Homo sapiens: one gene and its partner. The protein of the gene in region 2 purifies or fractionates together with the protein of the main gene of each other region. This does not show direct contact. Each region holds a gene or a part of one and is shown on either strand. Other genes may lie near its edges. The genes, in order: SCAP and GALNTL5.

Region 1 (3,816 bases), on a different chromosome or scaffold from region 2:
GGATGAGGCCTTCTGTCCCCAGAGCCCTCACTAAGGCACAGCCACATAAAGTTCACAAAGGCTCAGACGGTTGCCTCTGGTTGTTCCTTTGTGCCCAGGGTCCCAGGAGGCATTAACTTGCTGTGCTTGGTCAGCATCTTGGCCCTTGCCTATGCTGTAACCTGGAGTACTGCATTGGTGAGTGGCTCCATGGCCTCCCTTTCATCCACACGCATGCCCCTTGGAGTTCCCGACTGCAGCCCAGGCGTGGAGACAGCCCCTCATCCCTCAGCTGGGCTGGGCCCTGCCCCCTTCAGTCCACACCTCGCAGTACACCGCTGTCTAGGGCCATGTTTCCTTGTCTCCAGTTGTCACCAACTCCCGGGGAGTCTTTACAGAGCACTGCTTTCATCAGGTTGCCCCTTCACCTCAGAGACACTGGGCTTTGCTTTGTCAACTGATTAAAATCCTGACAGCTCAGTCAGGCTTCAGTCTAAGCCTGCTTGTCATCTTCCTCGTAATTTCTGTTATCCCCTGACAGGTTTCCTTGGTGCAGATGTCCAGGCCTTCTGTGCTCTCAGCATCCCTTGCAACTCACATTCCCTCCTGCTCCTCTCCTACCTGTTCTTTTCTAACCTTATGGCTCTACTCAGCTTCTCCTGGGCCATAACTCTGCTGTGGCTGACCCAGCATGTTTTGGGGTGCTCCGCGACATGCCTGTTACTGAGGGTTGCATATGTGAACACTCTTGTCATTTACATCCCTGTTAAGCTCTTGAAAGGTAGATGGCAGATTCTAGTGAGAAAAGTATGTGATATTTAGTGAGGAGACCTTGGTTTGAGTCCTTACACCACCCTGCCTGGAGTGTGAAGCTCTAGGCAGGCACAATGCCTGAGCCTCTCCTTGCTTCTCATCAGGCTGTTGTGAGGGTCAGATGAAGTGAAATGCCTGATTGTTCATTGTTAATATTTCTGCTAATCTTTCAGACACTGTTTGTATGCGTGTGTGGTGTGTGCATACATCTTGATGCTGCAGGGTGAATGTCGTTATTCCTGTTTCACAATGAGGAAATTGAAATCCAGAGATGTCAAAAGTGTTTTCAAGGCCATATGTTTGGAAAGCTGTGATTTAAAATTGGGTCCTTTGATCTTCAAAACCCGCTACTCTGCTGCAAGTGACAAAACCTGAATCAGTAAGACAGGTTACATGCTTTGGGGAGTGTAGAGTCTATAGTGCGGTCAGCAGACATGTTCCATAAAGGGCTAGATAGTAAACATTTAGGCTTTGCGGGCCAGACGGCCTCTGTTGCAGCCATTTGACCCTGCTGTTGTAGAGTGAAAGCAGCCATAGACAATAGTAATGGTAGGGGTGTGGCTGTGCTTCAGTAAAAATTGGAAGTGGAAAAACAGGCACTAACCAGCCTGGGCAACATAGTGAGACCCCATCTCTACAGAAAATAAAGAAGTTAGCCAGGTGTGGCACTTCGGGAGGCCAAAATGGGAGGATCACTTGAGCCCAGGAGTTCGAGACCAGCCTGGCAACATAGTGATACCCTGTCCCTACAAAACATTTTTGAAAATTAGGCGTGGTGGTGGTGCACACACCTCTAGTCTCAGCTACTTGGTGGGTGGGGGTGCTGAGGTGGGAGGATCTCTTGAGCCTGGGAGATTGAGGTTTCAGTGAGCCATGATTGGGCAATAGAGCAAGACCCTGTCTCAAAAAGAAAAACAGGCATGGGCCCTGATTTGGCCTACAGGCCATCGTTTGCCTACACCTGGTCCCACAGTGCTTTGCCCATAGTAGATGTGTTATTGAGCAAAAGAGGCTCGCTGCCCAATGTGCTAGAAGCCAATACTGTGACACCAGGATTTGGGGAAAAGAAAAGCTTTATATTGAAGGTTGACTCCCTAGGAGACCGGAGTCCAGCTCAAATCTGTCTCCCTGTGCTGGCTTTAAGGCAGTAATTTTATTAGGAAAGGTTTAGAGGGTGGATACTAGGATTAGCAGATGATTGATGGAAGGAAGGGTGATTTCTGGGAAGTCTTTGAGCATGCCCAGTTATCTCTTGATGCCACCTCACAGGTCCCATGTGCAAATTCCGGGGGGAGTTAGTATGAAACATGGCAGTGGAAATTCAGGCTGTGACATCGGCAAGCTCATTCTGCACAACTCCAGTCGGCCATCTTGGTTCCAGCTTATTTCAGCCAGTTCTTTTATCTCATAAGCGGAGGGAGTTTCTGGGTTTCAGCAAATTGTTTCTTTTCTTATCTGCCATCCTGCAAACTCAAGAACTTGTATTAGTCATTGGTTTCTTTAACTCTGTGGGGCACGGTTTCCAATGCCCATTAAATCCCTTGAATTGGACCGTCTTTCTTCTTCCTGTGCTCAGCTGCCCTTTCTGCCCTCCCTCATTTCTTCTGCAGTATGTGGGTGCCCCGGTGGCTTATGTCCAGCAGATATTTGTGAAGTCCTCAGTGTTTCCCTGGCACAAGAACCTCCTGGCAGTAGATGTATTTCGTTCACCTTTGTCCCGGGCATTCCAACTGGTGGAGGAGATCCGGAACCACGTGCTGAGAGACAGGTACCCCTCTCAGGGACCCTGGCCTCCCTGAATCCCATTCTGTACTGAAGGGAGAGTTACAGTCCTCAGTGTAACTGCAGTGAGCCAGTCAGCTCTGCAGAGATAGAACAAGCAAGAAGGATGGAGGGTGAGCTAGCCTTGAATTTCTCAGCATCCTTGTGGGTCTACGGTGGCTGCATTCCGCTTGGACCTATGCAGATGGCACACACATAGCCTTGAGTCTCATCCTTACATCTCAGATGGAGTCAGTGTCCACTGTGCTAACTCATGACCCACATGGCTTCCTGCCTGTGGGTTATGGTGTGAATGTAATGGTGGTGTCTCTGCCGACGAGAAGCAAGCTCTACCTGGGGGTACCTTCTGAAGCCCCAGCCCAAGTCGTGCTCCCCTGCCTATCAGTGGGTCCCTGGGTTATGCTGGCTTGGCATACAATGTGTGTAATTGGCAAGCTGCATCACTGCCAGGTTTTAGTTAGCTAGTGGCGTTGACAGATATTTTGGTGAACTAAATGAAGCCCCTAATTTACCCCGGTCCCTGCTCATCCACTGAACTGGCCAGGGTGTTTTAGTGGGTGGGGTTGTGCATGCTCTTATAGTACACTTGCCCGTCCTCAGAGCTGATGGGCTTTTGGGCTTCAGATGCACTTTGAAAGTCAGACAGCCACATGTTTAGGTTATTGGCCACCTGGAAGTACTTCCCCCTGCTGCCCTAGTGGTCAGGCTCTTTGGCGATACCAGAGAGCAAATATGGGGCATTGAAGAACAGACAGAGGATGTCCCCTAAGTACAGCAGGTCTGCCCTGTGGTGGCAGACACAGCAGGTGCCTTGTCCTGTCTCCTGTGCAGCTCTGGGATCAGGAGCTTGGAGGAGTTGTGTCTGCAAGTGACCGACCTGCTGCCAGGCCTTAGGAAGCTCAGGAACCTACTCCCTGAGCATGGATGCCTGCTGCTGTCCCCTGGGAACTTCTGGCAGAATGACTGGGAACGCTTCCATGCTGATCCTGACATCATTGGGACCATCCACCAGCACGAGCCTAAAACCCTGCAGACTTCAGCCACACTCAAAGGTAGCCCCAGTACAAGTTCCCTTCAGACCTGTAAAGGTGCCCATTGGTCACCGTCTTTTTGATGTGTGCTTAGGCAGATCAGGGTTTACCCTTTGTTTCCCAGGGTGGGGGTGAGAAAGGGGTCCTTGGTGGCTCTGCAGTAGCTGTCATTTCTGTGTCAGTACCTGCTGGTTTCTGCTTGCAGACTTGT
Region 2 (3,816 bases):
GGGGCCACAGGCCCCATGCAAGTCTGAAACCCAGCGGGGCAGACATTAAATCTTCTTTTTTTTTTTTTGTAAGACGGAGCTTGCTCTGTCACCCAGGCTGGAGTGCAGTGGTGTGAACTTGGCTTACTGCAACCTCTGCTGGCTGGGTTGAAACAATTCTCCTGCCTCAGCCTCCCAAGTAGCTGGGTCTATAGGCACGCATCACCATGCCTGGCTAATTTTTTTTTTTTTTTGTATTTTTAGTAGAGATGGGGTTTCACCATCCTGGCCAGGCTGGTCTTGAACTCCTGACCTCGTGATCCACCTGCCTTAGCCTCCCAAAGTGCTGGGATTATAGGCTTGAGCCACAGTGCCTGGCCCCTAAATCTTAAAGTTCTGAAATGATCTCCTTTGACTCCAAGTCTCACATCCAGGTCACAGTGATGCAAGGGGTGGGCTCCCAAGGCCTTGGGCAGTTCTGCTTCTGTGGCTCTGCAGGGTACATCCCCCGCAGCTGCTTTCAAGGGCTGGTGTTGAGTGCCTGTGTCTTTTCCAAGTGCATGGTGCAAGCTGTTGGTGGATCTACCATTCTGGGGTCTGAAGGAAGGTGGTCCTCTTCTCACAGCTCCACTAGGTATTGCCCCAGTGGGGACTAGGTTTGGTGTCTCTATCCCCACATTTCACCTCTGCATTACCCTAGTAGAGGTTCTCCACGAGGGCTCTGCCCCCGCAGCAGGCTTCTGCCTGGACATCCAGGTGTTTCCATATATCCTCTGAATTCTAGGTGGAGGCTCCCAAAGCTCAACTCTTGTCTTCTGTGCACCACAGGCCCAATACCACATGGAAGCCACCAAGGCTTGGAGCTTGCAACCTCTGAAACCACAGCCTTAGTTGTACTTTGGTCCCTTTTGGCCATGGCTGGAGCTGGAGTGGCTGGGACACAGGGCACCTTGTCCCAACGCTGCACAGAACAGCAGGGCCCTGGGCCTGGCCAACAAAATCATTTTTCCTTCTAGGCCTCTGGGCCTGTGATGGGAGGAGTTGCCATGGTCTCTGAAATGCCCTGGAGACATTTTCCCCATTGTCTTGGCTATTAACATTCAGCTCCTCATTACTTATGCAAATTTCTGCAGCTGGATTGGGCTTGAATTTCTCCCCAGAAAATGGGTTTTTCTTTTCTACCACATAGTCACCTGCAAATTTTCCAAACCTCAAGTTCAAAGTTCCATAGATCTCTAGGGTAGGGGCAAAATGCCACCAGTCTCTTTGCTAAAGCATAACAAGAGTCACCTTTACTCCATTTCTCAACAAGTTCCTCATCTCCATCTGAGACCACCTCAGCCTGGACTTCATTGTCCTTATCACTATCAGCATTTTTACCAAAGCCATTCAACAAGTCTCTAGGAAATTCCAAACTTTCCCACATCTTCCTCTTTTCTTCTGAGACCTCCAAACTATTCCAACCTCTGCCTGTTACCCAGTTCCCAAGTTGCTTCTACATTTTTAGGTATCTTTATAGCAGTGCCCCACTCCTGGTACCTATTTTCTGTATTAATCCATTTTCACACTGCTATAAAGATTCTACCTGAGACTGGGTAATTGCTAAACAAAAGAGGTGTAATTGACTCAGTTCCACATGGCTGGGAAGCCTCAGGAAACTGACAATCATGGTAGAAGGTGAAGGGAAAGCAAGGCATGTCTTACATGGTGGCAGAAGAGAGAGAGAGAGAGAATGCAGGGGAAACTGCTACTTTTAAAATCATCAGGTCTCATGAGAACTCCCTCACTATCATGAGAACAGCATGAGGGAAACCACCCCCATGATCCAATCACCTTCCACCAGGTCCCTCCCTTGACACCTGGGATTACAACTCAAGACAAGATTTGGGTGGGGACATAGAGCCAAACCATATCAGGTACAGAATTTCAGTTTGGGATGGTGAGAGAGTTCTGGAGATGGATGGTATCGATGGCTGCACAATGTGAATGTCTGTATTGTACATTTAAAGAGGATTAAAATGGCAAATTTTATGTTATGTGTATTTTATCACATAACAATGATTATGTTAATCATTAACATAATAATTATTAATGCAACAATTGAAAGAACAATTTTTTTGAAAAAAGTAAATTTTGGGGAATAAAAAGTAGCTGTCCAGAGCATTTTCTATCAGGAATGAATGCCCCTTTGGCCAGAAGCCCTTATTGGTGATTTAATAAAAAGATCTGTGGGTAACTCAATTCTTGGAAGCCTCTAGAACACATTTTGTGCCCACGAAGAAGACATTCTCTACACTATAAGCATTAGAATCTTGAAATAGAATCTTGACATTATCTGACTTCAAGTCCTAAAAATAGGAATCTATAACATTTCTAGTATGATCAAATTAAAATCTGGTTAGTAACTGTTTTCTTTCTATCTATCTATCTATCTATCTATCTATCTATCTATCTATCTAGAGAATGAGAGAAAGAGAGAGACAACATACATTTTACTCCTGGTATCTGGCACTTCTCTTTCGATGCCCAAGCTTCTACTGATAATCACATTAAATCCATATTTTAAAAGTTCTTTATGAAGTTCTGGGTTTGTATGGTTAAAATCTGTACCTGCAAGAAAATGTAATTAGAATCATATAAGTAAAGGCTTACTAGCAGTGATGCAGGAAAGGAAAGATCTAGAATAACCAAAACAATTTTTTAAAAGAACCAGAATAGAATTCGGAAATCGATCTGTGCAAAAATGGTCAAATAATTCTTGGCAAAGGTGGGTGTTTTAGTACATTTTGCATTGCTATAAAGGAATACCTGAGGCTGGGTAATTTATAAAGAAAAGAGATTTATTTGGCTCACAGTTCTGCAGGAAGCATTGAGCCAGCATCTGCTCCTGGTGGGGGCCTCAGGAAGCTTCCAATCTTGGCAGGAGGTAAAAGGGAAACAGGCAGGTCACGTGGTGAGAGAGGGAGCAAGGAGCGGGGGATGCCAGGCTCTTGAAACAACCAGCTTTCCCATGAGCTAATAGAAGGAGAGCTCATTACTGTAGGCAGGCACCAAGCCATTCATGAGGGATCTGGCCACGTAACCCAAACACATCCTGCCAGGCTCCACCTTCAACATTGTGGGACAAATTTCAACATGAGACATGGAGGGATAAATATTCTGATTGTATCAGTGGGGAAAGGGAAGTTTATCAACAAATGGTGTTGGATCATCTGGATTATCTGTAGAAAATAACCTATATGTGATGGTCCATTTTCAATTCTAAGTGGCTTAGTATAGGTTTAAGCAGGCTACATGGAAATAGGGAGATAAAGAAGCAGAATGTACTGAGCCCACCCCCACCCCCCGCCCCTTCCTGCTTTCCCTTTCACCCAGCGGCCAGGCGTCTATTGGTGGGGGCCCCCCCAACTACCCCCTCCCCACCCACCAAAGAATTCAGTTTTGGGGCCGGGTGCGGTGGCTCACGCCTGTAGTCCCAGCACTTTGGGAGGCTGAGGTGGGTGGATCACGAGGTCAGGAGATCAACACCATCCTGGCTAACACGGTGAAACCCCGTCTCTCCTAAAAATACAAAAAAAAAAATAGCCAGGCGTGGCGGCTGGTGCCTGTAGTCCCAGCTACTCGGGAGGCTGAGGCAGGAGAATGGCGTGAACCCCGGAGGCGGAGCTTGCAGTGAGCCGAGATCGTGCCACTGCACTCCAGCCTGGGCGACAGAGCGAGACTCCATCTCAAAAGCAAAACAAAACAAAACAAAAATTTAGTTTTGTTTAGCTTGCAACATAGGTAATTGTACCCTTTCTTATCAGCTAAGTGCAGCCACTAGGGCCATAAATCAAA

What was found.
Region 1: the proteins of GALNTL5 (region 2) and SCAP purify together in Homo sapiens (affinity purification with mass spectrometry; one large-scale study listed by BioGRID and IntAct). This does not show direct contact.

What each region holds. Positions count from the first base shown.
Region 1 is NC_000003.12:47,427,257-47,431,072, reverse strand, and holds part of SCAP (sterol regulatory element-binding protein cleavage-activating protein), read left to right. Parts: intron 1-2,402; coding exon 2,403-2,560; intron 2,561-3,405; coding exon 3,406-3,626; intron 3,627-3,810; coding exon 3,811-3,816. UniProt on the Homo sapiens protein: Escort protein required for cholesterol as well as lipid homeostasis.
Region 2 is NC_000007.14:151,969,718-151,973,533, reverse strand, and holds part of GALNTL5 (inactive polypeptide N-acetylgalactosaminyltransferase-like protein 5), read right to left. Parts: exon of another isoform or gene 3,773-3,816; intron 3,036-3,772; exon of another isoform or gene 2,861-3,035; coding exon of another isoform or gene 2,833-2,860; intron 2,590-2,832; coding exon 2,469-2,589; intron 1-2,468.